Linked DNA regions of Homo sapiens: all the other regions are linked to region 1. The links come from fine-mapping of genetic effects on plasma protein levels. A gene starts in region 1. Each other region holds a variant in brackets. All regions are shown on one strand. Distances are from middle to middle. Region 1 holds the start of ANXA3 (annexin A3). Region 2 overlaps ANXA3 (annexin A3). Region 3 overlaps ANXA3 (annexin A3).

What was found. PIP is the chance, under the fine-mapping model, that this variant and not a neighbour inherited with it causes the effect. The UK Biobank Pharma Proteomics Project read protein levels with antibody pairs (Olink). The fine-mapping took linkage between variants from a reference panel, not from the people measured, so its PIPs are less certain.
Region 2: its variant is fine-mapped to the plasma level of the ANXA3 protein (UK Biobank, PIP above 0.99). The variant lies in the coding sequence of ANXA3. If it changes the protein, the assay may bind it differently, which can mimic a change of level.
Region 3: its variant is fine-mapped to the plasma level of the ANXA3 protein (UK Biobank, PIP above 0.99).

Annotation. Positions count from the first base shown.
Region 1 is chr4:78,547,574-78,558,011 of GRCh38, forward strand. ANXA3 (annexin A3) reads left to right here and starts at 4,197. Exons shown (of 13, transcript NM_005139.3): 1 at 4,197-4,286; 2 at 6,863-6,915. The coding sequence starts at 6,901. RefSeq lists enhancers at 4,562-5,313, 4,617-5,816.
Region 2 is chr4:78,573,751-78,584,188 of GRCh38, forward strand. ANXA3 (annexin A3) reads left to right here. Exons shown (of 13, transcript NM_005139.3): 4 at 5,277-5,371; 5 at 8,427-8,540. Among named protein-coding and RNA genes, the nearest start is that of ANXA3, 27 kb to the left of the region's middle. The variant G/A (reference allele first, on the strand shown) is at 5,331.
Region 3 is chr4:78,604,431-78,614,868 of GRCh38, forward strand. It overlaps ANXA3 (annexin A3), which reads left to right. Exons shown (of 13, transcript NM_005139.3): 13 at 5,626-6,017. The coding sequence ends at 5,685. LOC124900721 (a long non-coding RNA gene) reads left to right here and starts at 10,363. Exons shown (of 2, transcript XR_007058152.1): 1 at 10,363-10,438. The variant C/A (reference allele first, on the strand shown) is at 5,004.

The DNA of each region.
Region 1 (10,438 bases):
CAAGTGATCCGCCAGCCTCGGCCTCCCGAGGTGCGGGGATTGCAGACGGTGTCTGGTTCACTCAGTGCTCAATGGTGCCCAGGCTGGAGTGCAGTGGCGTGATCTCGGCTCGCTACAACCTCCACCTCCCAGCCGCCTGCCTTGGCCTCCCAAAGTGCCGAGATTACAGCCTCTGCCCGGCCGCCACCCCGTCTGGGAAGTGAGGAGCGTCTCTGCCTGGCCGCCCATCGTCTGGGATGTGAGGAGCCCCTCTGCCTGGCTGCCCAGTCTGGAAAGTGAGGAGCGTCTCTGCCCGGCCGCCATCCCATCTAGGAAGTGAGGAGCGCCTCTTCCGGGCCGCCATCCCGTCTAGGAAGTGAGGAGCGTCTCTGCCCGGCAGCCCATGGTCTGAGATGTGGGGAGCGCCTCTGCCCTGCCGCCCCGTTTGGGATGTGAGGAGCGTCTTTGCCCGGCCGCCCCGTCTGAGAAGTGAGGAGACCCTCTGCCTGGCAACCGCCCCGTCTGAGCAGTGAGGAGCCCCTCCGCCCGGCAGCCGCCCTGTCTGAGAAGTGAGGACCCCCTCTGCCCGGCAGCCACCCCGTCTGGGAAGTGAGGAGCGTCTCCGCCCGGCAGCCACCCCGTCCGGGAGGGAGGTGGGGGGTCAGCCCCCACCAGGCCAGCCACCCCGTCCCGGAGGGAGGTGGGGGTTAGCCCCCCACCCGGCCAGCCGCCTTGTCTGGGAGGGAGGTGGGGGGTCAGCCCCCCGCCCGGCCAGCCGCCCCGTCCGGGAGGTGAGGGGTGCCTCTGCCCGGCCGCCCCTACTGGGAAGTGAGGAGCCCCTCTGCCCGGCCAGCCGCCCCATCTGGGAGGGAGGTGGGGGGGTCAGCCCCCTGCCCGGCCAGCCGCCCCGTCAGGGAGGTGAGGGGCGCCTCTGCCCGGCTGCCCTTACTGGGAAGTGAGGAGCCCCTCTGCCCAGCCACCACCCTGTCTGGGAGGTGTACCCAACAGCTCATTGAGAACGGGCCATGATGACAATGGCGGTTTTGTGGAATAGAAAGGGGGGAAAGGTGGGGAAAGGATTGAGAAATCGGATGGTTGCCGTGTCTGTGTGGAAAGAAGTAGACATGGGAGACTTTTCATTTTGTTCTGTACTAAGAAAAATTCTTCTGTCTTGGGATCCTGTTGATCTGTGACCTTACCCCCAACCCTGTGCTCTCTGAAACATGTGCTGTGTCCACTCAGGTTTGAATGGATTAAGGGCGGTGCAAGATGTGCTTTGTTAAACAGAGGCTTGAAGGCAGCATGCTCCTTAAGAGTCATCACCACTCCCTAATCTCAAGTACCCAGGGACACAAACACTGCGGAAGGCCGCAGGGTCCTCTGCCTAGGAAAACCAGAGACCTTTGTTCACTTGTTTATCTGCTGACCTTCCCTCCACTATTGTCCTGTGACCCTGCCAAATCCCCCTCTGCGAGAAACACCCAAGAATGATCAATTAAAAAATAAATAAATAAATAAATAAATAAATAAATAAATAATAAAAAAAATAATAATAAAATGTGAAATAATTAGGAAGTGGTTAATTTTGAGTACCTATTACCTTTGCTTTTAACGTAATTTATTCAATTGTATTTATTTAACTTGTAATAATGTCTACATTAATACTGGCTGTGAAATAACTGAAAATTCAGGAACTGGCTTTCACATGCTGGTATAACCCAGCTCCAACACATCACTGTAACAGCAGCTATGTATTCAACAGCCACAATCACGTAGTCGGTCTTTCCTTCACATTTTACCATATGTTCTAAATATATCTCAATAACTTTGCTTTAAAAATTTGTATTTGGCTGTTAAATTGTTCTTTTGATCAGGATGCTATAGGAAAATTCCCTTTTTACTAACCTGTAAAGTTCTGTGTATTCAGAATAATGAAACTTTTATTAAATAACCTTTTCTGAATTCTTTTTCTGGATAACCATAAACCTGGATTCTAACAGCATCCTCTAATATTTCCTTCCAAGAAAACTCATCCTTTGGGGAAAAAATAGTTTTATAATATGCCATAGCATGTTTCTAATATAAATGGTGGTAATTGGGCTGTTGATACAACTAGAAAAACTCAAAAAATGATAAAAGTGCATTTGTTAAAGTTACCATCAGGAAATCAAAGAAGTTAAATCCTGAATGGTTTAAACAATTAAAATAAAGCCTACATGTAAAACATCACCTGTTACTCATTTTCTTCTGGCTATAAATCTAGCCCTATGACTTCCTAGTTGCCTGGAATACAACTCGTAGAACTTACTGAGTCCCTCTGAGCCTGTGTCTGTATCTGCAAAATAGAGGCAATCATACCTAATTTACAGCTAGTTGGTAAGCATGACATAGATCACGTACGTCAAGTGCATTACCCAGTGTCTGGCACAAATAATAATAAATATTTTCCCCCATTTCATGCTAATCTCAGAATTTTTTGAGGTAACATGGGATTTAACAGTTTATTGTGGTGAAGTCTGAATGGGAGTCAGGAATTACTATGCAGAACAGAATGCAGAACACCATCCTATCTTCTCTCTTGCAGAAAGCCCATCACTTCGGATTTGTAGATCTGAGAGGGCTCCCAGGGCACTGGCCTTTTAAGCATGACCACTTCTGCCTTCTCCGTTGTAGCTCCTCTTAAACCAGTGGTTCTCAAACTTTAGGATGCATCAGAATCACTTGATGGCGCAGGGTTTCAGGGAATTTGCATTTCTAATGAGTTTCTAGGTCCCAGGACTCAGCCTTAAGGACCAAGACTGTAATCTCTTCAACTCACACTCAAGCAGCTCCAGCCATGCTTATCCTCTAAAAATCCTCTGTGCTCCACCTGTTCACCCTACCTCCTCTCAACTCCTAGAAACCAGTGATTTTTTTTACTGTCTCCGTAGTGTTGCCTTTTCTGGAATGTCATATAGTTGGAATCATAGTGTGTAGCATTTTCAAATGGGCTTCTTTCTCTTAATAATATGCATTTAAGTTTCTTCCATGTGTTTTTATAGCTTGATAGCTAATTTCTTTTCAGTGCTGAATAAAATTCTATTGTATAGATGTATCACAGTTTATTTATCCATTCACCTACGAATTACATCTTGGTTGCTTCCGACTTTTGATACTTAGGAGTAAAGCTACTATAAACATCCATGTGCAGGTGTTTGTGGAGGTAAGTTTTCAAATCCTTCGGGTGAATACATAAGGGGCCCAGTGATGACTGAGTGCAAGCAATACTTTTTACTTACGTGGTCTCGGATAAATCACTTCACTTTTCTAAGCCTCAGTTTTCTCTTCTGCAAATTGTGATAAAAATAGCACCTCCTAGAGTTCCCTTGAAGATAAAAGAGGTAAGGTATTCAAGCACTTCAATGCCTGATACTCAATACATGGTAACTTTTTCTACATCCTTCAGCACACAACTGCTCATAATTCCCTCATACGAGTAGGGCTTTAACCTTTTAGCCTCGATGATTTGTTTTGCTCTTCCAAATGCCTAGAATGCCCTTCCAGGTTACCGTCTCCCTGAGCCTTTGGTTGGAATCCTCATACCAGAGGGTCAACACGTTTAGTAGAGGAATTACTGAAATAGTTGGGTTCCAAACACTAGCTCTGGCATTTACCTTCTGTGTAAATTGGCTGAAGTTACCCAACGTCTCTGTATCTCAATTTCCTCATCTATAAAATGGGGATAATAGTATCTACCTCATAGAGTTGTTGTCGGAGCCATTTTAATGGCAAAAACCGCAATTACTTTTGCACCAACCTAATAAATCCGCGCATATTCTTAAAGAAGTTAGAACAGTGCCTGGTACAAAGTAAATGCCAGATCAATGTTATTAATGTTAGGTGTCCGCCACCTATGCCACGCAGTGAGTTCCTTAGGTATAGGGACAGTCTAATCTCCGAATCCACACTGCCTAGAACAAAATAAGCATTGCAGTACATTTGAGAAAGTAAAGGTGTAGTGGAAACCGAGAGCGAAATGAGGGCGTAGGGAGAAAAGGGTGGGGAAGCTTAGAGACCGGTGAGGGAGCAGAGCTGGGGCGCCTGTGTACAGGGATAGAGCCCGGCGGCAGCAGGGCGCGGCTTCCCTTTCCCGGGGCCTGGGGCCGCAATCAGGTGGAGTCGAGAGGCCGGAGGAGGGGCAGGAGGAAGGGGTGCGGTCGCGATCCGGACCCGGAGCCAGCGCGGAGCACCTGCGCCCGCGGCTGACACCTTCGCTCGCAGTTTGTTCGCAGTTTACTCGCACACCAGTTTCCCCCACCGCGCTTTGGGTAAGTTCAGCCTCCCGGCGCGTCCCCGCGAGCCTCGCCCACAGCCGCCTGCTGACGGGTGGCTTGGGGAGGTCGCGGCGCCTCGCCCAGTTCCCCCGCGAGTGCAGCTCGACCCTGGGCAGGGCTGGCGGCTGGCGCCCGCGCCCGGCCCCAACCCAGCTGCGTGGGTGGGGAGCTGGAGGGACCTCAGTCCTGCATTTCAGAGTCGAGGAGACTGGGCCCACGGGGGGGAAAGTGCCGTGCCATGGGTGGGTCACCCAGGTCTTGGTGGGGCCCAAGCTGATACTCAGCTGTCCTCGCTCCCTGAAAGCTTCGCTTATTACAGCTAGCAGCGTAAGGGATCCACTTAGCCATCTCGGCCTCCCCAGTCCTAAAGGTCTAGGGGACAGAAAAAAGCTGGGAGTCGGAAGGTTCCTCGGGTCCCCGGCATGGCAGACGGGGCTGGCTCAGAGGTCTGCTCTGTGGACTTGGAATCGCACCCATCCTGTGAGCATCTTCTCCCCCTCACATAGGCAATTTATTTTATTTTACTTATTTTTTTTAGAAGGTAGAAAACAGTGGATTTGCATATTGAGGGTTGGAAGTTCAAGAAGTTTGCTTTTTCCTGAAAAGACTAACCGTTTTCTTTGCAACAGAATCCTATTGACTAGATATGAATCATTCCCTTGGTATTTGAGTCACCAGGTGGAAGATTTGGATACTTGATTGCAGATGACCATATATAGGAAAGTATGCAGGTGCTGGGAGGTTCTGGGTCGCTGGAGGCCCCTCTGGCTACTGATACGAAATTGCATAGCCCAGGCCGAATTCTTTCCAAGGATTTGTGTTCAGCACTGACAGCAAGACCCTGCCCTCCGGGAAAGATACATTTACTATGTTCACCAACATCATTTTTTAAAATGTAACTAATTAAAACGTTACTCCATGAAGATACCACCTTTGGTTTTCACGAAGACGGAAAACTTCAGACTGACCAGAAAGGGAATTTTTAAATGTAAAGAAAACCAGAATCTTGTTCCCAGAACTCTGTGGTTGTGTAGAGAAACCTGTTTAGAAATAACCGTAGAGGAGGAAGTAAAAGGAAATGATGTAATCCCTTTCAGGAAAGGATATATTGAAATTCTGTTTAAGTCATTTGGCCTTCGCTGTGGAGTAATTCTTTACATCTTAAAAGTTAAATGATAGATTAGTAATAATTCTTAATAATTTTCCAGTTCTGCTGGATCAATGCATATTAAGTGTCAGATTTGGTCAGGTGTGGGCCAGGCAGCAGATTAAGGCAGAAGCATGGGGGTTAGGTTCATACCTTTAGAGTCTAGCTGCCTAGATGCAGTAGGGGTCCACTCACTAGCTGTGTGACTGTGGGACATTACCATACCTCTCTGGGCTCCAGCTTCTTCATATGCAAAACGAAGATGTAATACCTAACTCACTGGATGATTGTGCGGCTTGTATTAAATCATTCATTTAATCAATAAGTTTTTTTTTTAAATATCTACCGTGCACCAGTGCACACAGATAAGAAGAATCTCCAGCCCTGTGAAACTGACCTCGTTCAATGCTGGCAACACCCCCTTCTTCACTTTTTACAGATGAGGAAATTGAGGCCCAAAGAAATTGTGTTTAGCTTTAAGAGGCAAAATGAGAACCAATAATGCCTTGTTTTCACTGTACAGATGGTTTGACTTCTGATTTTTAGACTTCAGAATAGTTTATCTGGCTGTAACCCCTCATAAGTCAAAGAGCATGTATTTAGAGAGATGCAGTATTAGACTCTAACTGGAGAGTTGACTGCCCTAGGCTACAGAGAGCCTGAAAAAACCAAGGTGAAATATTTCCAGAGACTAATAGTGTAATTTCCCATTGAACTTTTCTCTGGGGGTGTCAGGGAATTTTTAGAATATTTTGTTCCCAGGAAGGGTGGGAGCAACTTGCATTTCTAAATCAACCCTGGAGATATGCCAGCATGTTTGAATAATATCTATTTAAGAAAAATGTGTCTGGCTTCCCAATCAAAGAACTGTGCCTTTCACCTCTGCACCCCACCAAGGACTGGACCACCTCCTCAAAGAGCAGATGTGTCTTTATAACAGACTGTAGGCTTGGAGCCTTGTAAAATGTACATGGAGTTTCACAATCAAGCACAAGGAATCCAACTGAAGGCAGCTAAACTTTGTGTTGATTTGGTGAGGAGGAGTAAAATCCTGTGTTTTTGTTGTTATTGATCCCCGTAGTGGTAGCCTGTCAGTAATCAGCAGAGTTCTCCTGGACTTTAAATAAGTCAAAAATTGGCTTTTCAGGAAGTATATTTGTAAGCATCTTAAGTACAAAGATTTTTTTCTGTCTCTTGTCTTGAAGTCCTCACAGGTCTAGCACAGTCCCTTGCATATGGTAGATGCTCAGTAAATGTTTGTTTAGCAAATGGGATACCCAATGTCAGATATATGCTCTTCCTGAGAAGGTTTTTCTGTGAATGTTGACATCTGTTTTCTGGATTCAAGATTAAGGGTTGGACTAAGATTATTGTGTTCTGAATCACATATTGATACCATTTACTAATTGTTTTCTTTTAATAGATTAGTGTGATCTCAGCTCAAGGCAAAGGTGGGATATCATGGCATCTATCTGGGTAAGTAAAAATTAAGCCTTCACAACACAGTAACATATATGAGTCAAACCAAAACACAGAAGGTCAAGATAGCAAGGAAAATTTTAGGAAAGTTTTTAAGTTTATCTGGCAAAATTAACATGCTAGAAAAGCCAGAGGATGTCAAAAATAATAAAATATTTTTAAAAATGCATTGTAAAGTTACATAGTTAAAATAACTTATGATGACACCAAGGCGGAAAGGTCAAAATCAGATAATAAATTTAGTATATAATTTGGGAATTTATTATATGAAAAAGATGACATATCAGAGAAGAAGAGACGGATTATTCAATAAATGTTAGGAAAACTTCTAGCTGTTTGGGGAAAAAGTAAATCTGTATTCCTTTTTCTCCTTACAATAAAATAACTTCCATGTGGATAAAATACAGAAATGAAGAAGATGAAATATGAATGGGCCGGGTGTGGTGGCTCACACCTGTAATCCTAGCACTTTGGGAGGCCGAGGTGGGTGGATCACCTAAAGCCAGGAGTTTGAGACCAGCCTGGCCAACATGGTGAAACCGTGTCTCTACTAGAAATACAAAAATAGCCCGGTGCGATGGCAGATGCCTGTAATCCCAGCTACTCAGGAGGCTGAGGCAGGAGAATCGCCTGAACCTGGGAGGCAGAGGTTGCAGTGAGCTGAGATCATGCCACTGCACTCCAGCCTGAGAGACAGAGTGAGACTCCGTCTCAAAAAAATAGAAAAAGAGAAAGAAATATGAATGGATTGAAGAATATTCTTGGAGTGGGGAAGATGCTTACAACTGTGACACAAAACCAAACGCCTAAAAGAAAAATATTGATCTATTTTAACTACATACAAGTTTATCACTATGACAGCCAACAATCCCATTGGTAGAGGCAGAAGACAGCTCGCAGGGAAAAAATATTTGCAGCACATTAGACAAAAGACTTATTTCCTTAACATACAAATAACTTGAATAAATTGGTTTAAAAAATGAACTTGACAGAAAAAGTTGTAAGGGACATAAACAGGACATAAAAAGAATTATAAATGTCCAATAACATCAGAAGGTGCTACAAGGTTGGACACAGTGGCTCACACCTATAATCCCAGCATTTTGGGAGGCCAAGATGGGAGGATCATTTGAGCCCAGAAGTTCGAGACCAGCATGGGTAATATGGCAAGACCCAGTCTCTTAAAAAAAAAAAAAAAAAACTTTAAAAATTAGCTGAACGTTGTGGGGTGTACCCATGGTCCTAGATACTTGGGAGGCTCAGGTGGTAAGATCGCTTAAGCCCAAGAGGTGGAGGCTGCAGTGAGCCATGTTCATACCACTGTACTCCAGCTTGGGTGACAGAGTGAAACCCTATCTATTAAAAAAAAAAAACTCCTGCATCTCAGAATTGAAAAAAACATAAATATCATGATGAGAAACACTTTTCTACTTAAGAGATTGGTGAAGGTTAAAAAAAAAAAGTAATGTAGAGGATGTGGCAAGGTGATATTTTTATTCTCTGTTCATGGGAGAGTAAATTTGGTACACTTTTGGATAGTATTTTGGCAATATCTCTCAGTCCTTAAATGCACATGTCCTTTAAACCCAGTAATTCCACTTGTGGGTATGTATCTTATAGATAAACTTGCATAAGGTTGAAAAAATAGGGGCCCAAGTACATTTGTTTGTATTAATGAAAACAAACATGCAGACAGCATAAATGTCCATCGATAGGGTAGGAATAAGTAAATTACTCATTTATAACTTACAGGCATTTTTATGTGATCATTAAAATGAATGGGAAAAAAGTGGATCAGCTGTATGTGAATTGACATTAAAAAAGTCCCAAGATGTAATAATTTAAAAAATCAACTTATAGAGTAATATGTACAGAGGGATTCTGTTTAAAAGAAAGAACAAAGAAAATAAAAAATTTACGGAAAGACTATTACATCAAAACTTTGTGGAAAGGTGGAATTGTGAGAAAGGAATTTTACTTTTCAATATATCACCTTCTGTACTGTTTGATTTTTTTTTTTAATCATGAGCATACATTATATTTTATAAGTAAGGTGGAGGGCAAGTTTAAAGAAAAGCCTGTGCAGAGATGTGACCATCCCTTGGCCTGGCGTATGGATGGAAGGTGTGCTGTTGGAAGGCTTTGTTTGGCCCAAGTTACTCCCTTCTCACTGGCTAGGAGGCTAAACTCTCATCTTTCATCTGAAATCCCTGCTGCTTTTATGAACATATCATAGAATCAGATGAAAAAAGCATCTCTCCAAAATGCTGGTGTTAAAAAAAAAAGTCGCCCTCTGGCCCTCGCCCATGAGTAAATTAACATGGAATTATTTGGGCAGGCTCTCCTGCTGACACCTTCAAAGGCGTGGCACATTTCTGAAGGGCTAGGAGAGACCCAAGTGCGTGTGATCAAGGGTGTATTCATTTCCTATTGCACTATGACAAATTATCATAAATTTAGCAATTTAAAACAACATCCATTTATTATCTCACAGTTCTATATGTTAGAAGCCTGAAATGGGTCACACAGCACTAAAATGAAGGTGTTGTTGGGACTGCATTCCTTTCTGGAGACTTTGGGAAGAATCCTCTTCCAAGCCCTTTTAGGTTGTTGGTAGAATTTAGTTCCTTGTAGTTGTCGAATTGAGTTCTTAGTGCTTGCTGGCTGCCAGCAGAAGCTGTCTTTGGCTCCTGGAGGTCTCTGCCTGTCCTTGTATGTGGCCCCTGCATCTCAGAACCAGCAATGATGCATCAAATCTTACTTATGCTTGGAATCTCTTTGGCTTTTCTTTCTGGGGGATCTCTTTTCTGCCATTCTCTTCTCCCTCCAGCTGAAGACATTTCTCTGCTTTTAAGGGTGCGTGTGATTAAATTGGGCCCACCTGGATAACACGGGCTAATCCCTGTGTTTTAAGGTCTGGAACCTTAATTATGTTTGCAAAGTCTCTTTCATCATGAAACACAATACATTGACAATTCCCAAGGATTATGATGTATACATTTTAGGAGGCTGTTGTTCTGCCTACCACAGGGGCTAGGAGTATGGCTACATCAGGGATGGTAGCATTTGGCATCAGATAGCAGGAAAGAGGTGGGGAGGGGCCAAAAACAGGAGGCTAACCTGAGCCTGGAGGGCAAACCCACACGTGGAGAAAGAGGCCCTAGCCAAAGAAGGGCTCCTACTGTCTCTGGGTTTTTCTTTTTTTTTTTTTTTTTTTCCTGTTTACCTCCTCTCCCTCAATTAAAGAACTAATACTTATGAGTGGCTCAGAGAGCAAACATTAGGAACAACTCAGAACTGCTATGGAAAACAAGATAGCAATTCTCCAAAAAATTAAAACTAGAACTACCACATGCTCCAGCAATCCCATTTCTGGGTATATATCCAAAGGAAATGAAAGCAGGATCTTAAAGAAAGGTATCTATACACCCATGTTCACTGCAGTACTTTTTACAATAGCCAAGAGGTAGAAGCAGCCCAGTTTCCATTGACAGAAGAATGAATAAACAAAATGCGGTAC
Region 2 (10,438 bases), 26 kb after region 1:
GGTGATTTCTTGAAACTGTAGTGCCACCCCTTTTTACACCAAATGTCGGTGTTTCCGGAACTGCCATGGCACTGGTGGGTGTGTGATTGAGTATGTTAATTAGCATATAATGAGATCCTAGGAGAATCCTAGGTCAAATCCAGCGCCATGTTGGGTCCAGTGGGTCTTAGCCAGCTTGATCCACACTATGGGTTTTCAGGGTCATATCAGCCCCTAGTTTCTGCAGCTATTTCAACAGTTTCCTTTTGCTAGTCATGTGAAACTGCTGCCTGGAATTTTCTGTTCTCCTGTGACCATCCTGTATTAGTCCTATCTAACCACCACCACCACTGCCACCAACAACAGTAATAATTATCATAATAAATCATTACAAATATGGCCCCCTTGGTTGGGCATGGTGGCTCCTGCCTGTGATCCCAGCACTTTGGGAGGGGGAGGCAGGAGGATCACTAGAGCCCAGGAGTTCAACACCAGCCTGGCAATATAAGGAGGGCCCTTCTCTACAAAAAAACTCAAAAAATTAGCTGGGCTTAGTGGCTTGGGCTTGTGATCCCAGCTACTTGGGAGGCTGAGGTAGGGGGATACTTTGAGCCAGGGAGGTTGAGGCTGCCCTGAGCTGTGATTGTGCCACTGCACTCCAGCCTCGATGACAGAGTGAGAGTCTATTTCAAAAACAAAACAACAACAACAAAAAAACCCAACACAATCCCGTCAGTTCTTCCTGGATTTCACTCTTGCCCCTTTCCCTAGAGATAAACACCATCCCAAATTAGAGTTCATTCCCATGAAACTTTTAATACCATAACTACATATACATGTACATATTGTTATGCATGGTCTCAAACAGCATAAAATGAAATCATACTGTATACATTCTTCTGCAATATGTTTTTGTCTCTTAACATTATGTTTTTGAGATTTATCCATGTTGATATGGTGAGCTCTAGTGCATTAATTTTAACTGCATGGTAGTCTATTGCATCACTATATCAGAAGATGGGAATATTGATGGAACATTTAAATTGCCTACAATTCTTTTATATTGCAATATAAAAATGCTGCAATGAATATTCCTCTCATGTCTCATTGTGCATATTTGCTAGCATTTCTCTAGAATATGACAAGAACTGGAATTTCCACATTGATGGGGATGCTTCTCTTCAAATCAACTAGAAATTTTGCCATACTGCTCTCTGAAATGAATGCAGAAATTAGCATTCCTTTCAGCAATGTACAAGACTTCCTTTTGCTCCATATTCTCACCAACACTTGCTATAGTAAGACTATTCCATTTTTCTAATTAAGTGTGTCTAAACAGTATCTTATACTGCATGTGTGTTTGTTTCCTGTCTCTACTCCAATGACTGATGCAGTTAAGCATCCTCACTTGTGCATCTGCTTCCACTTTCATATGTCAATAAAATATAAAATATATTTTATCTATTTTTTTCAGTTGGTTTGTCTTCTTTATGATTGGCAAGAGTTTTTTTATAATTCCTCAATACAGACTTTTTAAAAAATATTACAAGCCATGAAAATATTTCCTATAAGTTTATGGTTTTTTTTTTAACATTGGTGACATGGTTTGGCCCTGTGTCCCCACCCAAATCTCATCTTGTAGCTTCCATAATTCCCACGTGTTGTGGGAGGGACCTGGTGGGAGATGACTGAATCATGGGGACAGGTCTTTCCCGTGCTGTTCTCATGATAGTGAATAAGTCTCACAAGATCTGATGGCTTTATAAGGTGGAGTTTCCCTGCACAAGCTCTCTCCTTGCCTGCCACCATCCACGTAAGATGTGACTTCTCCTCCTTCCCTTCCACCATGATTGTGAGGCTTCCCCAGCCACATGGAACTGTGAGTTCTCCATTAAAGAGTTCCTTCATAAATTGCCCAGGCTAGGGTATGTCTTTATCAACAACGTGAAATGGATTAATACAATTGGTTACAGTAATTTTTATTGCATAGAAGTTTTAAATTTTAGTGAAATCAAGTTTACCAATATTTTTGTCCAGGATTTATGCTTATTGAATCTTTTCTATAACGAAGTCATAAAGTTAGATATTCTCCTACTTTTTTTTTCAAAGTTTTGAAATTTTATTTTTCGTATTATGATCTTAAATCTACATGGAATTAGTGTTCATGGATGGTATTTAAAGGTGTCTCATTTTATTCTATTTCATGTGGACATTTAATTGTCCCAGAACAATGTATTGAAGAGCTCTTCCTTTTCACACTGATTTGTACGTAATATCACCTATGTTTTATGCTTCCCTATTTTTCTCTTCTCTGTTATGCTTCATTTATCTATTTGGCCCTCCCAACACCACATTGTCACAATTATTAGGATTTTATAATGACACTAAATATCTACCAGGCAAGGTCTTTCTTGGCTCTTTGCCCTCCTCTATGAATTTTAAAATCAGCTTGTCAAATTCAATAAATATACTATATTAGAACTTTATATCAATATAATATTATGTTTTTTCTGCCTGTTTGAGGTTTATTTTTTCCATTTTTCAATGTAAGTTATTTCTTCATTTATCTCTTGATTTCCTTATTTTTTTTTTAAGAGAGAAGGGCTTGCTCTGTCACCTAGGCTCGAATGCAGTGATATGATCACAGCCCACTGCAGCCTCAAACTCCTGGATCCTATGGCCTCAGCCTCTGGTGTTGCTAGGACTACAGATGCTCATCACAATGTGTACCTAATTTTTAAATTTTCTGTAGTGACAGGGTCTTGCTATGTTGCCCACGCTAGTCTTGGACTCCTGGGCTCAAGTAATCCTTCTGCCTTGTCCTCCCAAAGTCCTGGGATTATAGATGTGAGTCACTGCACCCAGCCTGATTGCCCTATTTATATCTAGTGTTGAATAGACTGTTTCATGAGGTTAATAGTCTTTAAATTCTGTCACCTCTTTTTAAACATTATGTTTCTTCATGAATTTGCACTTTGGCTTACAGGCCTTCTTTAAGAAGGAGGTTATTGTTTATGAGCACCACTTCTGATAGGTTCTGAGTTCAGAATGAGGTATCATAACGGTGTTTGCATTAGGGATGGGTCAGACACAGTCTCTGAACCTGAGGCATCTTGGCTTAGTTTTTGATCTTGGGCATGTTTAAAAATAAGAGATGAGAAACTGCCAGGCATACAAACTACACATAACTGCAGGTAGTTTGGTATAGTTGTAGTCTAGGTGCATAGGTTATAGAGATGCAGAGAGGGGGTAGAAAATGAGAACAAAGACATAAGGCAGGAGAGATCATAATGAGCTGATACATGAGCTAAGGGGCTTAAACTTCATCCTGAAGATTACAAAGAGCCATTAGAATTTTAGCCAAGGGGGTGACATGATCAGATTGTATTTTTAAACATTTACTTAGGCAGTAGTTTACAGGAATAATTATATGGGAGTCACATTAGGAGGTGATTTAGGTTATCCAGGTAAAATATGATAAGGACACAGGAGCAGAGGGCATGCAGAGGAGACGACAAATTTAAGAGATGCAGATAATTGCTATAATATAGAGAATAAGATAAAGAAAGGAATCTGAGATGATTCCCAGGGTTTTTGCCTGGATGACTATATCCATAGTTGTGGATGAGGGAACATAAAAAGAAAGACAAGTCAGAGAGGAAATACAATAAATTCCACCCAGAATGTGCTGAGTTTCAGATACTTGTGCAGTTGTGGTGGCCGGTAGTGTACTGACACAGATGCTGGGTACAATACACAGCACCAAATTGGTGCTCAGACCCACAGAGCACAAATACACTTTAATCTGATTCGGTATTTATTTAACTATGTGTAAGAATACAAAACCAAAGACACAGAAAGGCAGCATCTTTCATTGGGAGGCCCAGCAGCTAACCAAGTACACAGAAGCTTTTGCTTCATCATTGATGTAAGCTGTGTACCACTGCCACGGAAGTGTGTAGATGAGGTCTGTGAGGGTCACCTTGACACAAAGAAGTTGAGCATTGAGTTCCAGGTGCTCTTTTATACCTCTCTAGTCATGCATGCTCTAGGCCTGCAAGCCAATTCACAGCTTCCCAAACCAGGTATCATCGTGGGTTGGGAAATTAATTAGACACAACTTTCCACGTTTTTCTTACTACTGTAGTCACCAAGATAAGAATGACCTTGAGGTCATTCTTAGGCAGGCCAGCATCAGCTCTGGCCTGATGTTACCTTTTGCTTACAAACAATTCATTTTGTATATGGGTTTGAAATTTATGAGAGAGGCCGGGTACGGTGGCTTACCCCTGAAATCCCGGCACTTTGGAAGGCTGAGGCGGGTGGATCACCTGAGGTCAGGAGTTCGAGACCAGCCTGATCAACATGGTGAAACCCCATCTCTACTAAATTAAAAAAAAAATTAGCTGGGCATGATTGCACATGCCTGTAATCCCAGCTACTTGGGAGACTGAGGCAGGAGAATCGCTTGAACCCGGGAGGTGGTGGTTGCAGTGAGCCGAGATCGTGCCATTGCACTGCAGCCTGGGCAACGAGAGAGAGAGAAAGGGCGAAGGGGAGAGAGAGAGCGAGAGAGAGAGAGAGAGAGAGAGAGAGAGAGAAAGGGAGGGAGGGAGGGAGGGAAGGAGGGAGAGAGGGAGGAAAGAAGGAAGGGAGGGAGGGAGGGAGAGAGAGATGTGGAAGAAATGCATGAGAGAGATGTGGACCAAAGATAGAAATATATGTTTTGGGGTCAGAGATTTGGGTTCAACTTCTTGCTGGACCACTCAGCAGTTGTGTGACTTTGGCAAGGAAGATAAGTTCGTGTCTTCATCTTTAGTACAGCGGGCCCCTGTGAATATTAACTATGGCAATGAATAAAAGGGTGTTTCATGCAGGGCAGATTTTCAATAAGTGTTGGTTCCTGTTTTCCAGAGGAAGAAATATTTTGATATCAAGTATGGGAGAGAGATAAAAGGCAATAAGACAGTAACCAAACCTCATAAAGGTAAAAAAGTCAAGTTCAAAAGTAGTAGGTTGTTTTGTCTGATGTACAGAAAGGAGTATTTAGACAATGATTGTTTCCTTCCCCCCAAAACTATCCAAATAAAGTTAACTTTTTTTTTCCAAAACTCAGGCAAACAAAATAAATAAATAAATAAATAAATAAATAAATAAATAAAATTCCAACCAGATAAGATGCTAGAAATTAAAATGCCTTACTCTCTGCATTTGTCTCAGGCCATTGATCATTTTGCTTTTGTTCAAGACAAATGTTGAGCATAAATATTGAGTAAAATAACTTTTGTTTCATTTAGGAACTGATGAGAAAATGCTCATCAGCATTCTGACTGAGAGGTCAAATGCACAGC[G/A]GCAGCTGATTGTTAAGGAATATCAAGCAGCATATGGAAAGGTAAGGTCACATTAACATGACAGGCAGTAAAGAGATCATTAATGTACCATGGTCGCTCCCACATGGTTATGCCCACAGTCTTCTGTTTCAGGCTGAGTGTAACAGAAGATGCCCTGTGCATCCAGTCAGGAGCCTGGAATCTGAGTCGTGGTTTTGCCTTGAACTAGCTGACTGGCTTTGGGCATGTTACTTGGTCTTTCTGGGCCTCAGTTTCTTCACCTGTAGGATAAGGTTTGCCTTAGCCCAGTGGGTTCTAAACCAGAAGTGATTTTGCTCCCCAGGGGACATTTGGGATGAATGGAGACATTCTGATGATCACAAACAGGATGGTGGGGAGTACTTCTAGCATGTAGTAGGCATAGGTCAGGGATGCTACAAGCATCTGAGAATGCGCAAGGCAGCCCTCCACAACAAAGAATTACTAAGGAAACTATCTGACTAATTCTGTCTTAGGTAACCTTTTATTTCTCTTTTAATTTTAAAATATTTATGTAGTTATAGGTTTAATTCATTCAGCAAAGAAAATTTAGTAATTACCAGAAACTATATAAGAACAAGTAACTTTGGGAGGCTGAGGCGGGTGGATCACCTGAGATCAGGAGTTTGAGACCAGCCTGGCCAACATGGTGTAACCCCATTTCTACTAAAAATACTGAAATTAGCCTGGTGTGATGGCACATGCCTGTAATCTCAGCTACTCGGGAGGCTGAGGGCTGAGGCAGGAGAATTGCTTGAACCCGGGAGGCGGAGTCTTCAGTGAGCCGAGATTGATCCAGCCTGGAAACAGAGCAAGACTCCGTCTCAAAAAACAAAATAAAAAGGAAAAAGTAAAAGTAAGACTTGGTCTTTGCTATACAGTTTATTTGTCCAATGTCTATTTCTGAGTACTAATCTGTGTTAGGAGATATCCTAGACATTGGAAATAGACTGGTATAAAAAGCACATCCTGCCTTCTTTCATGGAGCTAACATTCTATTAGAATATAATAAACAAGTAAATAAAAATAATTCAGATATGATAAGTGATATGAAAGAATTAAAATGGTTGATATGATAGACAGTGACTGGTGACTGGCTCCTGCAGATAGAGTGATGAAGGAATGTCAGTGAGGGGTTGTTACCTCACTCCCCACTAAGCCTAAACAATACTAGGGGTTCTGCCCTGCTTGATCAGGAGATAGTATTTAAGGTACAGAAAATATAAAAGCCCTGAAGCAAAAAGAAACTGGGAATATGTGAGAAATAAAGAATTCCAATATGGCAGGAATGTAGAAAGTGAAGGGGGCAGAAGAAAGAGATGAGGCTGGAGACAGGTTGAGAACATGCTAAGCCTTGGGTCTTGGTAGGGTTTAGATTTTATTCTAAGGGCTACAGGGAACCACTGGAGGTTTGTAAGCAGAGGAATAATATACTGCAGTTTTTATTTTTAAAGGATTATTTTGGCTGCTGTAGATAATGAACTGTGGGGGGAAAAGGTACAAACAGACCCGGCCAACTGTTGAGAGGGTCTAGTGACCATCCACAGGCACCTCAGGAATTACCTCCTGGGAGTGTTCTCCAGGCCCCCAGGCTCCATTAAGACACCCTTCTCTGAGCTCCCTTTATCAGATAACATATTATATTGAAATTTTATCTTTGAATATTTCTGTTTTTCCCATGAGGGCAGAATGCCTTAGGATAAGGACTTTGTCTAACTTACCTTTAAAGGACTAGCACAGAGCAGGTGCCCAGAAAACATTTGTTGAATTGAGTGAATTGCCTAGCTTCAGGGCAAGACAACACTTTCACATACAGAGAAGGTGAATGATCTATTGGCCTTTTGGTATTTCCAAAATATGGAAGAAAGATGGAGGTGGAGGGGAACAACCATTTCTCACAGTGGAATAGGATGAGAGCTGTGAAATAAGATTCAGCTGCAGTGGCTTGGATTGAGGACAGATGGTAGTGAAATTTACCATTTAGAGAGGAAAAAAACACTGTGGCAATTAAAGCAGAGTTGATAACACTGAATGCCACCCCATTTGTTTCAGCAGGAACATGCCACTGCTGCACCCCCCAGGAGTGTGGTTGTGTCAATCTGTGCCCACAGCGTTTCAGCAGGCTCAGAGGCTACCAGCCTCTATTTCAGAGCTGAAAATAATCAGGAGCAGGAACAAACATTATTCAGTATTATGCCATTGAATATTGAAAATAGAAACCCTGTTACCCCCCTTTAAGCAGGGGAGATGGACTGTACTTAGGTGTGAAAACAGTGCTCAAAACAATATCAATAGGTAATGTCTGTAAGAGGCTAAATTCTAGTGTTCCATCGCCCTGTAGGATAACTATAGTTAACAATAATATAGTTTCAAATAGCTAGAAGGAGGATATTGAATATTCCTAAAACAAAAAAATGTTACATGTTTGAGATGATGGGTATGCAATTACCCTGATCTGATTACCATACATTATATGTATTGAAACATCACTATGTACCTTATGAATAAGTACAATTATTATTTGTCAGAAAAAATAAGTCTAATGTATTGCCACACTTAGGGTTTTCTTTTCTTTACTTGTTGCCAGAAAATTGCTTCTGATGCCACCTAGTTCCACATTCTCACCAGAGACAAATGACCAGCCACTGTCCTCCCTTCCCCTTCCTCTTGGAGCTCTTTGGGAGTTACTGAGAGGCAAGACACCGAGGAAGAGAGCACCTCCCACTGAAGCTGGGCGTGAATTTATAAGGGTTCCTCTTCCTCTTCCCTTACCCCAATCTAAGCATTGAAAGCATGGCGGATCTAGGAAATGCATTTGAATACAGTTCCTAACTGTGGCACTCATGGAATCCTCCCATTTGGCTCTCCTTCAAAAAACCTCTACAAAACAGAACAATTTGGGAGTAATTAGAAAATGCAGATTAATATTCATAGAAATATTTTCAACACTTCTGTTTATTCCCTGTGGATGGACATGTTTTGTCTGATTTTGATACATATGTTCATCTTTCACTAGGTGACTTTAGAGAAAGAGAAAAAAAGTATTTCACATTTTTCCCCTTGGTTTTTTGATTTTAGGAGCTGAAAGATGACTTGAAGGGTGATCTCTCTGGCCACTTTGAGCATCTCATGGTGGCCCTAGTGACTCCACCAGCAGTCTTTGATGCAAAGCAGCTAAAGAAATCCATGAAGGTATGAGCCCCCCACAAGCCATTTCTGCCCAGGGTTTGACCAAGTCATCAAAAATAGTGACTTTCTTGCAGTGCACACTTGTGATGGGTGGACTTGGATGCCCTTTTGGTCTGGACTCTCCCAGTGGTAGAATGACTCTGAAATAGGCAACAGCTATAGAACCTTAAGCCCAAATGTTCCTGGGCTGGAAGAATTTTGTCATATCCTTTGTTTGACATGAAGAGTCAAGTTCTCTAATTTGTCATCGTTGAAAGTAAATAGCACTATGATTAACCCCAACACTCAAGCTAAAAACCTAGCATTATCCTTGAGCCCTTGTTTTCTCTTACCCTTCCAAGCTCCCAAATCTATCAGCAAGTTCCTTAGTTTTACTTCAAAATCCATTATAAATATGTGCACTTCTCTCAAAATCCATTGCTACTGTTCTAGTCTGACCACCATCATCTCTTGACTGGTCCATATCAATAGGCTTCTAACTGGTCCCTTTGCCTCCATTTTTGCCCATCTCAAATTCATTCTACACAGAATAGCCAAAATTATTTTTATTAATTTATTTTAAAAATCAGATTATGCTACTTACCTGCATAAATTTCCAATGGCTTTGTACGCTTAAAATCCAAGCTTCTTATCATGACTTTCATCACCCAACATAGTGCAGCTCCTGTCTAACTCTGTGGCTTTTTAAAATTCTATTTATATCAGTCAGGGTTCCCTCAGAGAAGCAGAACCAATAGGCAGGACATAGACTTTAAAAGATTTATTGTAAGGCCAGGTGCTGTGGCTCTTGCCTGTAATCCCAATACTTTGGGAGGCCAAGGTAGGTAGATTGCTTGAGCTCAGGAGTTTGAAATCAGCCTGGGCAACTTGGAGAAACCCTGTCTCTACAAAAAATAAAAAAAAAATTAGCTGTGCATAGTAGTGCATTCCTGTAGTCCCAGCTACTTGGGAGGCTGTGGTGGGAGGATCACCTGAGCCCAGAAGGTCAAGGCTGCAGTGAGCTGTGATTGTGCCACTGCACTTCAGTCTGGGTGACAGTGAGACCCTGTCTCAAAACAACAACAACAAAAATTTATTGGAAAGAATTGGAGGCCATGGTGGGAGGATTGCTTGGGCTCAGGAGTTCAAAACCAGCCTCAAACTGAGCAACATAGTGAGAACTTGTCTCTACAAAAAATTTTTAAAAATTAGCCAGGCATGGTGGCTCATGCCTGTAGTCCCAGCTATTTGGGAGGCTGAGGTGGGAGAATCACTTAAGCCCAGCAGGTCTAGGCTACAATGAGCCATGACCGTGCCACTGCACTCCAGCCTGGGATGCTGTCTCAGAAAAAAAAAAAAAAAGAAGAAGAAGAAGAAGAAAGAAGAATTGGTTACATGATTATGGGACTGGTTAGGCAAGTTCAAAATCTGTAGAGCAGGCTGTCAGGAAAGGCAGGCTGGAACTCTTGGGCACAAGCTGAAGCTGCTGTCCACAGAAAGAATCTTCTAAACAGAAGCCTTGCCTCTGGTCTTAAGGCGTTTCAACTGATTGGATCAGGTCTGCCGAGAAAGGTAATCTCCCTTACTTAAAGTGAATCGATAATAAACTGAAATTATATCTACAAAATACCTTCACAGCAACACCTAGATTAGTGTTTGATTGAATAAGTGGCATTATAGCCTGGCCAAGTTGGCACATAAAACTGACCGTCATACCCCCTCCTGCTCACCCATTAATGATGTAGCTACACTGGCCTTTTCTCTGCTCCTTGAACATCATAAGCTTATTCTTGTTTTGAGATCTTTATACATGATGTTTCTTCCATCTGGAATGCTTTTCCTCCAGACATTTTCCATTAATTCACTCAAATATATTTTCTTAACTGCACTTATTACTGTCTAAAAGTATCTTGTCTATTTAT
Region 3 (10,438 bases), 57 kb after region 1:
TTTTGCCCTTCTCTACCCATCTCCTTACTCTTATATGCCTTAAAATATAAAGATATTTGACTTAGATTTCTCTCTCCTTGTCAATGTATAAATGTGTTGTCTGAGCTTAAAATAGTAGCAGCAAAATATCCCTTATTTTCAGCTCTAAAATCCCAGGCATATAATAGACACTCAATATTTTTTTAGGTGTACTAGCCACTAATTTTTCTTCTTTTGTGAATTACATATGCAAGTTGTTTACCTGTTTTTTATATTGCACTGTTTTTATTTATTTCAGTCTTTATGACAATGTAAGAAAAGAAAAATACGTATTTTAAATTTCCTCTCTGTTTTACATGAGACAGCATGGTTCTGCAGCTTAGAGTGCTTTTCATTTCAGTATATAGGAAACTTTCTCATTTTATTTAACAGCTGTATATCATTCCATTGTTTGTATATTTGTACCCACCACAACAAACAGAGGCTTCCAGTTTATTGCTATTGCAAACAATGTTGTATAATGCATACACAACTTCATCAGGTACGAGTGTATCTTTGGGATGAATTCTCAGAAGTAGGATTTCTGAGACAGATATAAATGCATTTTAAATTTTGACAAATATTACTAATTGAATTCCATTTTGCAATTCCATGAGGAATGTATGAGAACTTCTTTCTCCATAGCTTTGGCACAGAGGGTATTTTCAAACTTTTAGGTTTTTAAAACATTTTTTAGAGATGGGGTCTTGCTGTGTTGCCCAGGCTGAAGTGCTGTGGCTGTTCACAGGTGCGATCATAATACATTGTAGCCTAGAACTCCTGGGCTCGAGCAGTCCTCTTGCCTTAGCCTCCAAGTAGCTGGGACTATAGGTAAACTTTTGGGTTTTCATAATCTGATAGGTGAGGAATTGTATCTCAGTGTAGTTGTAATATACATTTTTCTTAGTATAAGTAAGGCTGAATATATTTTCATGTTTGAAATAACATTTGTATTTCTCTTTCTGTGATCTGTCTTTTTACATTCTTTGTCCACATTCTTTTGGGTTTTTGTTCTTTTTGGTCAGTTTCTAAGACGTTTTTCACATAAGGTAGATTAGCCTTTTGTCTGGTCATATTTTCCCAGTCCGTTCTTTGTCCTTTGACTTGGCCAAAAGTATTTTTTTCCAAGCAGAGGTTGCACATCTTATTTAATTAAATTTATCAATCTTTCACAGTATTTTAGTTTTTAAAAAATCTGGTCCCTTCTGTTTCTTTCATTCTGGATGAGAATCTTCCTAAAATGGGCTCCTTCCTTTCTCTTTTAAAGCATGAAACCCATTTTCATTGTTTTCAGATCTCAGTTGATATATTATACATAGAAACTTCAAATAAATTACAAATTATTTGAATTAATAGGGCAGTAAGCCTGACAAAAATTGTACAAGAGGCTTCTGTACCTTAAGCTCGTGGTTCAAAAGTCATAGTCCCAACAGGAAGATGGCAACTAGTTAGTGGAGAACTAAGGGGCTAGCCCCACACCTGCTCAGTAGCCTTCCATTGATTTACTTTTCTACCTTGATGCTCCAGACCACATATGAAAGTCTCTAGTAAATGAGTGATAGAGAGTGTTAGTCCAAGCTGGTTCCCTGGAACAAAGTGGAAGCTGGGGTTGGTGAGTGGAGCAATCCACTGTCCTTGCCTCCAAGGCCACACTGACCAGGGGAAAAGACAGAGTCAGGGCTGCCTTCGCAGAGGACTTGCAGGCTATGCAGACCTCTCCGTCTCTTTGCTACTCCATCTACCCTTGAATGTCTCGAGGAAATCAGCACTAGAGAGTATTGGACCCAGGTGAACTCTCCAAGGTCTAAGCTGAGACTTGGGGCCTAGAAGGTGATCCAGGATGAAGAGGGAAGCAGCAGCCAAGCAGAGTGTTTGCTCTGAGTGCTGAGGGTCTAAAACTGGGAATGGAGTCCATGCTGATTAGACCCCCTAAGCTGTGGATCATTATGCACCATGCACATCCTGATCCTGGGTAGCAGCACCCTCTCTCAAGCCCCTACAAGGCTGGAGCACTACCTCTGTGGGGGAGCTTACACTCAGCGATGTCCCCTGGGGACACCTGGCTTAGACCACATTCCAGTGTCCCTGCCAGCAGCTGGAGTCTTTGGTCCAACCTTCGCTATGGCCCTACCCACAATAGCCACCCTTGAACAGGCACAAATATTAGCCTGGGTCTTTCTGCAGCTATCTTGGGAAGGTTTCTGCCTCTGACTTTACAAATGGCCTTTGAATGAATGAATGAATGAATGAACATCAATCAGTCAACTAGATTCATTCACTAAAATCTCTCTCTCTCTCTTTTTAATCAGAGTTTTTGTTTTTGCACTAAACTTTTACAGAAAGAGATGCTGAGATGCATGCATAAGTTGAAATCAGGAACTTACTCAAAAAGGCAATTCTCAGACTGTGCCTGGGACTTAGCACAAATTGCATCAACTGCTCACACTCAATTCTATTTGAATCAGTCCTGACACATCACAATAGTTTCAATCATCAGAGGAAGATTCAATAACATTAACCATGTTGTAGCTACTAAGGCAGAAAAATAGACTCACACATTTTCTAAAGATTGTCAGTAACAAGGTTGAGACATAAAGAGGGCTTTCAGTTCACCCTCAGCAAACCAGAAAATTAAATTAACCAGTGGCTCTCCGTTCCCCAGTGGTCTGGGTAATTGAGGCTTATTGTATTAGAAAACATTTAAACTATTTGTAGTTTGATAGAAAAGAAAAATCCATCACTGAAAACTTCAGTTTGCAGTTTGAAATAGTACAAGATTTCTTTATTTCTACCACCTAACACATATTATTAAGTAATCTCATTACATTTTTGCTATTGAAGAACAGGATCTTTTTAGATGGTTGTTTCTGAAATTCATGGGATAGAGTTCCATTTTGCATATCATCTCAGCCTGTCATCCTGCCTGTTTTCTTCCTTCCACCTATTGTTTAGACATTTCTTTGTCCATTGACACCTTTCTCAGGGGGTAACCGGTGGGAAGGAGAAGGCAAGGAAGAACAGAGGTGAAAAACCAATGTGTACCTCTTACTACTTTATAAGAAGATATTATGGAAAATTTAGATGAAATTATATTTTTTGGTAGTTTTCCTTCATAGACAAATTCTGTATTTATTTAATAAATAGCACAATTCCAAGCTTTTTATGGGAAAATATAGTAGCCACTCACAATCAACTCATAATCTATGTGGAGACTTGAGGTAGGTATGAAGAAACAATTAGAAGATAATAATTGAAACAACAGACAATTAAATACTAGATTGTTGAATATAGAGCTAGTACTATCGGAATTGAGAAGAAAAGAAGTTTGGGGTTAGAGAAATGGGTCTTGAGCCTGCCTTTCAGGTCAACAAGCATGTGTTGAGTGTCTCCTGTGGGCCAGGTGCTCTGCTGGAGCATTTACCTTTAAGACCCCAGATCAATAGGGTCTTAAAAGTAAATGCTCTAGAGACAGATATGGGAAGAAGCAAGAGGGAAAGAAGTAATAAGGCATTTGTTTGATTAGAGGGTCTACCTTGGGGAATATTGAGAAATAAAATCCAAGTAGCAAGATGAGTTCAGTTGAAAGAGAGCTTTGAGATCAGCGAATTCACTCATTCAATTAAAAATATTATCAAATGCATATTATGTGCTAGGCTCAGGGTTACAATTATAAGCAAAGGGGGTAGGGTGGGGGAAGACATTTTCTGCCCTTATGGAATTACAACTATGTTAAATGTAAAGGAAAGTGACATTGTGCTAAAAGATCCTACAATAGTAGGACTTGACTTAGAGGAAAGGCTTCTATGAGAAAGTCATGATTCAGATCTGGAAAATAAGTAGATATTAATAAGGCAAAATGTATGGAGGTAAGGGAGCCAGTAGAACATTCTAATAAAAGAAATGACAAATGGAAAGGCCTCATGGTGGAGGAAGCATAATGAAAAATGAGGATGTGGGGGCCAGATCATGCAGGACCTTTTTGGCAATGTTTAAGGAATTTTGGCTTTAGCTTAAGAGTAAGGGGAAGCCATTGAAGAGTTCTGGGCATGAGCTCTTGAAGAGTTAGTATCAGGATCATGAAAAGATCCCTGTAAGATCTTCTTATTCTGGAGAATAAGAAGGGCTCAAAAGATATTTAGGAGTTGAAACTTAAGGGACTTGGTATAATATCTTGGTGTGAGGAAAGGAAGATAGCAAGGATGACACTCAAGTTCCTAACTTGGAAAACAGACAGTGGCGCCATTCCTTGCAAGAGGATCAGGTTTTAGGTTGTTTGTTTGTTTGTTTGTTTCCTTTTCTTTTGGGGGAGTGGGGGGAGGTTTATGAGTTTGGTTTTACATGTATTGAGTTTGAGATGTCTTTGAGCCATGTAAGACATGTGGAGAGGTCAAGTAAGTCATTAGCGGTGTAAATATACTTTGAGTTACTTGGATGTATTTTCTTGACTAACTGGTAGAACGCCTAATTGTTTACAACTCTGATCAGAGATGTCTAGAAGGAGCTCTTTTAATACAAAGCTGGAGCATTGTTGACTTGTCAGCTCTGCTATTGCAGAGCAAGACAGGAAAACCAATAGCATAAGAACTAAAATCTATATAAAAACGAAGAATATTGTCATATATTTTGTGAAACAGACAAATGAACAAGAAATAAAGAAAACAGAAAAATATATATAAAGGCCTATTGTGTCTTACTATGAAAGTAATGCTTAACTTCTTCACTAAATGAGCCTTCTCTGAGACTTCCTTTATATTACCACTTTCTCTAATATTCACCCCAGTAACAGCCATTCCAAATGTGAAACTTAAGTGATAAGAAGAGCTCACTGGTTGGGTTACCTCAAATAAAATAAAAATAATGTGAGCATCTTACACAATCCAGGTTGAAAGCCAAGTTTTACCTCCTGTGAAGTCTTTTGCGTTACAAACTTGGTATCTTTGCCCTTTAAGCCTCAACCTCACGTAGTATCTTTTCTGGACAACAGT[C/A]TATTTTTGGTTGGCCTTGGGAAAAGGAACTGATAAACATATTCTTTAAAAATGTGGTTCATTTCACTTTCCTAAGTTAGGCAGTGTAGCAGGGTATTAAGGAGCCAGGATATAGGGATTCAAATCCTGCTTTTGTCACTTATTCTCGATAAGATTTGAGGCAAGTTTCCTAACCTGTCTTTCTCATTTTACTTATCTGTTAAATGGGGGATACGTATAGTACCTATTGCAGAGAGCTTTTAAAAGGGTTAAAGTAGTTAATACACATTAAGCCTTTTGAATAGCAAGTGTTCGATAAATATTATTAAAACTAAAATTTGAAGTTTTTATAGAAATCAATATTATGTAAGTGATGCAATCTTATTTTATTAAACCAAAATTGAAATTTAACTGCAGTATATCAGGAAGAATCTAAATATTACTTACAGTGAAGAAGATGCTGGTCAGAACGTAATTACACTCAGGTATGAATGAATGATGGAATTGCAGGTATGTTTTACTAAATGGTATAGCTCATGAGTCTCACACCCAGGTGAATTCCCTAGTGCTATAGGATTTGATTCATTTATGGTCTCCCATTATTTATACTGTATTTGTTCTTCATTGATTTTATTCTTTGCAGTCGGATACTTCTGGAGACTATGAAATCACACTCTTAAAAATCTGTGGTGGAGATGACTGAACCAAGAAGATAATCTCCAAAGGTCCACGATGGGCTTTCCCAACAGCTCCACCTTACTTCTTCTCATACTATTTAAGAGAACAAGCAAATATAAACAGCAACTTGTGTTCCTAACAGGAATTTTCATTGTTCTATAACAACAACAACAAAAGCGATTATTATTTTAGAGCATCTCATTTATAATGTAGCAGCTCATAAATGAAATTGAAAATGGTATTAAAGATCTGCAACTACTATCCAACTTATATTTCTGCTTTCAAAGTTAAGAATCTTTATAGTTCTACTCCATTAAATATAAAGCAAGATAATAAAAATTGTTGCTTTTGTTAAAAGTAATTTCTTTGTTTGCTTTCAGAGCTTGCCAACATTGTTTGATGCCTGGTGCCAACAACTAATATTTTAAAACATGTTTCTGTATAGAAGCTGTTACTGCTTCAGTTTATCACCTTGTTAATCACACTTTTTTGAAAGAAAGGAATAAGATGAAGATGTATGTGACCCTGGCCTACCCTTTGTAGTTGTGATCAAGCTATAGGAGTGGTAATGCATGATAAGTTATTTCAGCTTTCAGAAAACATCTGCTGAAGGATTAATCTAACCACTTCCTGTCTGAATGGCAAGCATGAATTATGGTTGCTTCATGCTAAATACTACTTTCCCAGAATGGGCATTTAGAATCAAGCCTCTAAGGTTTCCTTTTCTCTTGAGTTGGCAAAACTATGCATTTAAAGAATCCATCATGCCATCTTTGAGTGGGACCTAATATGAAATACCTTGACTGATATGAAATAGATAAAGTGAAAAAAATTCCAGTTAGAGTTATTTTCCTGGACCAGAATAGAAATGATCGTACTGGCCATGTGCAGTGGCTCACGCCTGTAATCTCAGCACTTTGGGAGGTTAGCAGGCGGACTGCTTGAGCCCAGGAGTTTGAGACCAGCCTGGGCAACCTAGTGAGACCCTGTCTCTGCCAAAAATACAAAAATTAGCCTGGCATGGTGGCACATGCCTGTGGTCCAAGCTACTTGGGAGGCTGAGGTGGGAGGATTGCTTGAGTCAGGAAGCTCATTTGGCAAGTTAGTTCTGTAATCAATACTATAAATGTCAGTCATAACTAAGATGATGGCAGGAGATAATGAAAACAACTACTTAAATATTTGGGAGATAAAATTGAGTAAACATGGTATTCAAAGTTACCAAGTGTCAGTCAAGTATGCCTTCACGATTTTAGTGTAAGTGATTTAGTGAGTAAGTATATCACGAAGCAATAAATCAATGTTAATACTCATAGAGTGCTTACTATGTATTAGGTACTATGTTAAACAGTGTAGTATATTTTAATTTGTTAATCCTCAAGGCATCTTACAATGTAGATACCAACACAGATATAGAAATGGAAATGGAAGCTTAGAGAAATTAAGTAACTTGTCACTGTAAGAGCCAGGTAGTCCAACTCCAGTGTCCAGGCTCTTAACCACTGTTTTGCCTTAGAATTTATCCCATCCCAGGGCCACTGTAGTTTTCAATGCCTAGTGCTTAGATTAGAACAGTGCTCAGCACATAAAAGGCATTTAATACAGTGAATCTTTATTTTAGATCTCATTCATCCTCAGAGTTGTTATACCACTTATGTATTAAGTACTTTCTGAAACAAAGCATGGTTACATGTGTCAATATTTCCCCTGTTTTGCAAGTGAGGAAAATGAGACTCAGGTTAGGTATCCAGCCCAGGGTTACACAGTGGCAAAGCCAAGGCTTAAGATCCGGGTCATCTGGACTTTAAAACTTATCTGTGGCTGGGCAAAGTGGCTCACACCTCTAATCCCAGCATGTTGGGAGGCTGAGACAGAAGGATCACTTGAGCCCAGGGGTTTGAGACCAGTCCAGGAAACATCAGGAGACTCTGTCTCTACGAAAAATTTAAAAATTAGCTGGGTGTGGTAGTGTGCACCTATAGTCTCAGCTACTCAAGAGACTGAAGTGGGATGATCAGTTGAGCCCAGGAGTTTGAGGCTGCAGTAAGCTATGATCACACCACCGTACTGCAGCCTGGGTGACAGAGCAAGACCCCGTCTCAAAAACAAAACAAAACAAAAAAACCTTACCTGTGCATGAGTGAGTTTGAAGAAGGTGAGAACTTGAACACAGTAGTGATCACACAAGAGAATTCTGCAGAAAAAAAAAAAGCCCCAATGAGGTAACCCTCTAACCCTTCTACTCACATCTGTTTTGCCTTGTATGCATTGGACTTCAGGCAATTACCTTTCTAAGCCACATATTCCTCGTCTTTAAAATGGGACAACAATAGTACCTACCTCATAAGATTGTTTTGAAAAATAAATGAAAAAAAACACTTAAAAGGTATTCCACATAGTGCATAGCACATGGTAAGCCCTTAATAAATGTTAGCCTGTATCATATAATTATTATAGAGTAGTATTCAATGGCCACATTTTTTATTGCCTCCAATTTCCACAAGGTGGCATGTCAAGTTCAAAGTGAACCCCACGGCCTTGCATCCCAATGGCAAAACCTACTTAACTTGCTTCAGAATAACATGGCCAAATCTAAACTGTTGGAAACTTCTTCTATAGAAGGTTTGTCATGGTTCAGAAATCTTATTGTCACTGTAAACTCCTTCTTAAGGAAACATGTGGAACATTTAATTTAATCATCTGGCTTCTCTGGATTCCCAGGACCATCTTCATTTACATGAATGTGCATTAGCTCTGACATGGATCACCTGCAGAATTGAGTGCATTCATGTCATCTCATTAAGCCCTAAGTTTAGTCCCTGAAGATTGAAAGAAGAGAAAAATAGCCAGCTGCAGAGAGTCCTGGGCTCTGTGGTTGGTGAGCTGCAGAAGCAGAAGGTTTGTACACTTCACGCTACAGTAACAGAATGTTTGGTCTATAAATCAGGAGCTGCAAAAATGGCAAATGAGGATGTTGAATAGGAGATTCTCTAGCCTATTTGTAAGAATGTATTGAGGAAATTTTTAAAATAGTGTACAGTAGTTCAGACATTTCTTCCATGTACCTTCCCCTATTTCCATTTCCCCAATTTCATGCCATATGGATAACCCACAGTTTTACTTTGTCTTTAAAACAATAATTTTGGGGTCATATCAAACTGGGTTCAAATCCTGGCTTCACCACTTATGGCAGCAGCGTAGATAACAGTGCTCGACAAATACTTAACCTCCATACAACTCAATTCTTTAGCTGACAATAACAGCACCTACCTTAAATATGTGCAAGGATGAAATGAAATAAAGCATGTGAAAAATTTAACTCAATAAAAATTAGTTACCAATAACTGCATTGGCATGGTGAGTTGCCAGTGAAGAGCAGATAGTAAGTGTTCAACAAGCATTTGTAGAATAAATAAGCGATACTTGTTTTAGTACTACTCAGCGACAGTAACTCTGAGGCCTTGGAAGCTTCAGAGAACTGTCAGCTGAAATCAGTGTTATTAATATGTTGTCAGTGTGTCCTCCAACGATAAGAGCCAACTGTGTTCACCTCAGTGATGAGGTTACAGGATCTGAAGAAAGTTTCCTAGTCTTATTTCCTGCCCATCAGTTGACAGTAGTATGACATGTGAGGGAGTGAGTCGCTTACTCTTTCTGTACCTTAGTTTCCTCACCTGTAAAGCCAGGATGGCCATGCAAGTATCATTCAGAGTAGGCGTGAGGTTTCAATAAGCCAGATTAGGTGATGCACTTACCACAGTGCCTGCACCCGTTAAGTGCTCAATAAACATTAGCCATTATTCTCTGGCTCAGTTTGGAAGACTTACAATTGCTTATACAGTGCTCTAATCACTTGGGGGATTTTGAGATGTTGTAAAGCTACCTCTTCTAGTTTGCAATTAGGAAAGAAGATAAAGCAAACTTCTTGGCAATTTCCTGCCTGTGAAACCTTGTGTTTTATGAGCCACGGAAAGTACCCCAAATTTTTTTTCAACCCCACCCCCAGCAAACTGACAAACTCAGATCTTTCCCACCCACTCTGTATGTCTCCCGTGGGACTGTGAGAGTCAAGCAAGTACAGGTTGCTGTGTGCTGAAGCCTTTTTACTGGTGCTATATTTCTTTCAGTTTCATCAAACTCAGCTTTGTGCCAGTTTTACCCACCAGGGCCAGCCCTCCTCTGAAACCAAAGTTTGCCTATTTCTGTAGAGTTTACAAAGTCAACAGTGAGAGAGAGGAGAATTTCAAATGAGGAGGAGGGTTACAGAGTAGGAGGTAACATTGAATGGCTGCTGCAGTAAACTGTTAAAAGAAATCCCAAACCCAGAATACCAGAGCAGCCCATTCAGCTGAAAGGTTTTATGACACAACCATGCATAAGAAAAAACTAGCTATCAAAATGTACATGTGACCTCTTTGGGCATAAACTTTGTGGAACTGGATGTGGCAATAAATAGTGGTCCAGGCCAGGCGTGGTGGCTCACCCCTGTAATCCCAACACTCTGGAAAACCGAGGAAGGCAGATCACCTGAGGTCAGGAGTTTGAGACCAGCCTGGCCAACATGGTGAAACCCTGTCTCTACTAAAAGTACAAAAAAATTAGCTGGGCGTGGTGGCAGATGCCTGTAATCCCAGCTACTCAGGAGGCTGAGGCAGGAGAATTCGCTTGAACATGGGAGAAAGAGGTTGCAGTGAGCCGAGATGGTGCCATTGCATTCCAGCCTGGGTGACAAGAGTGAAACTCTATCTCAAAAAAAAACATAGTGGTCCAAGGTGACC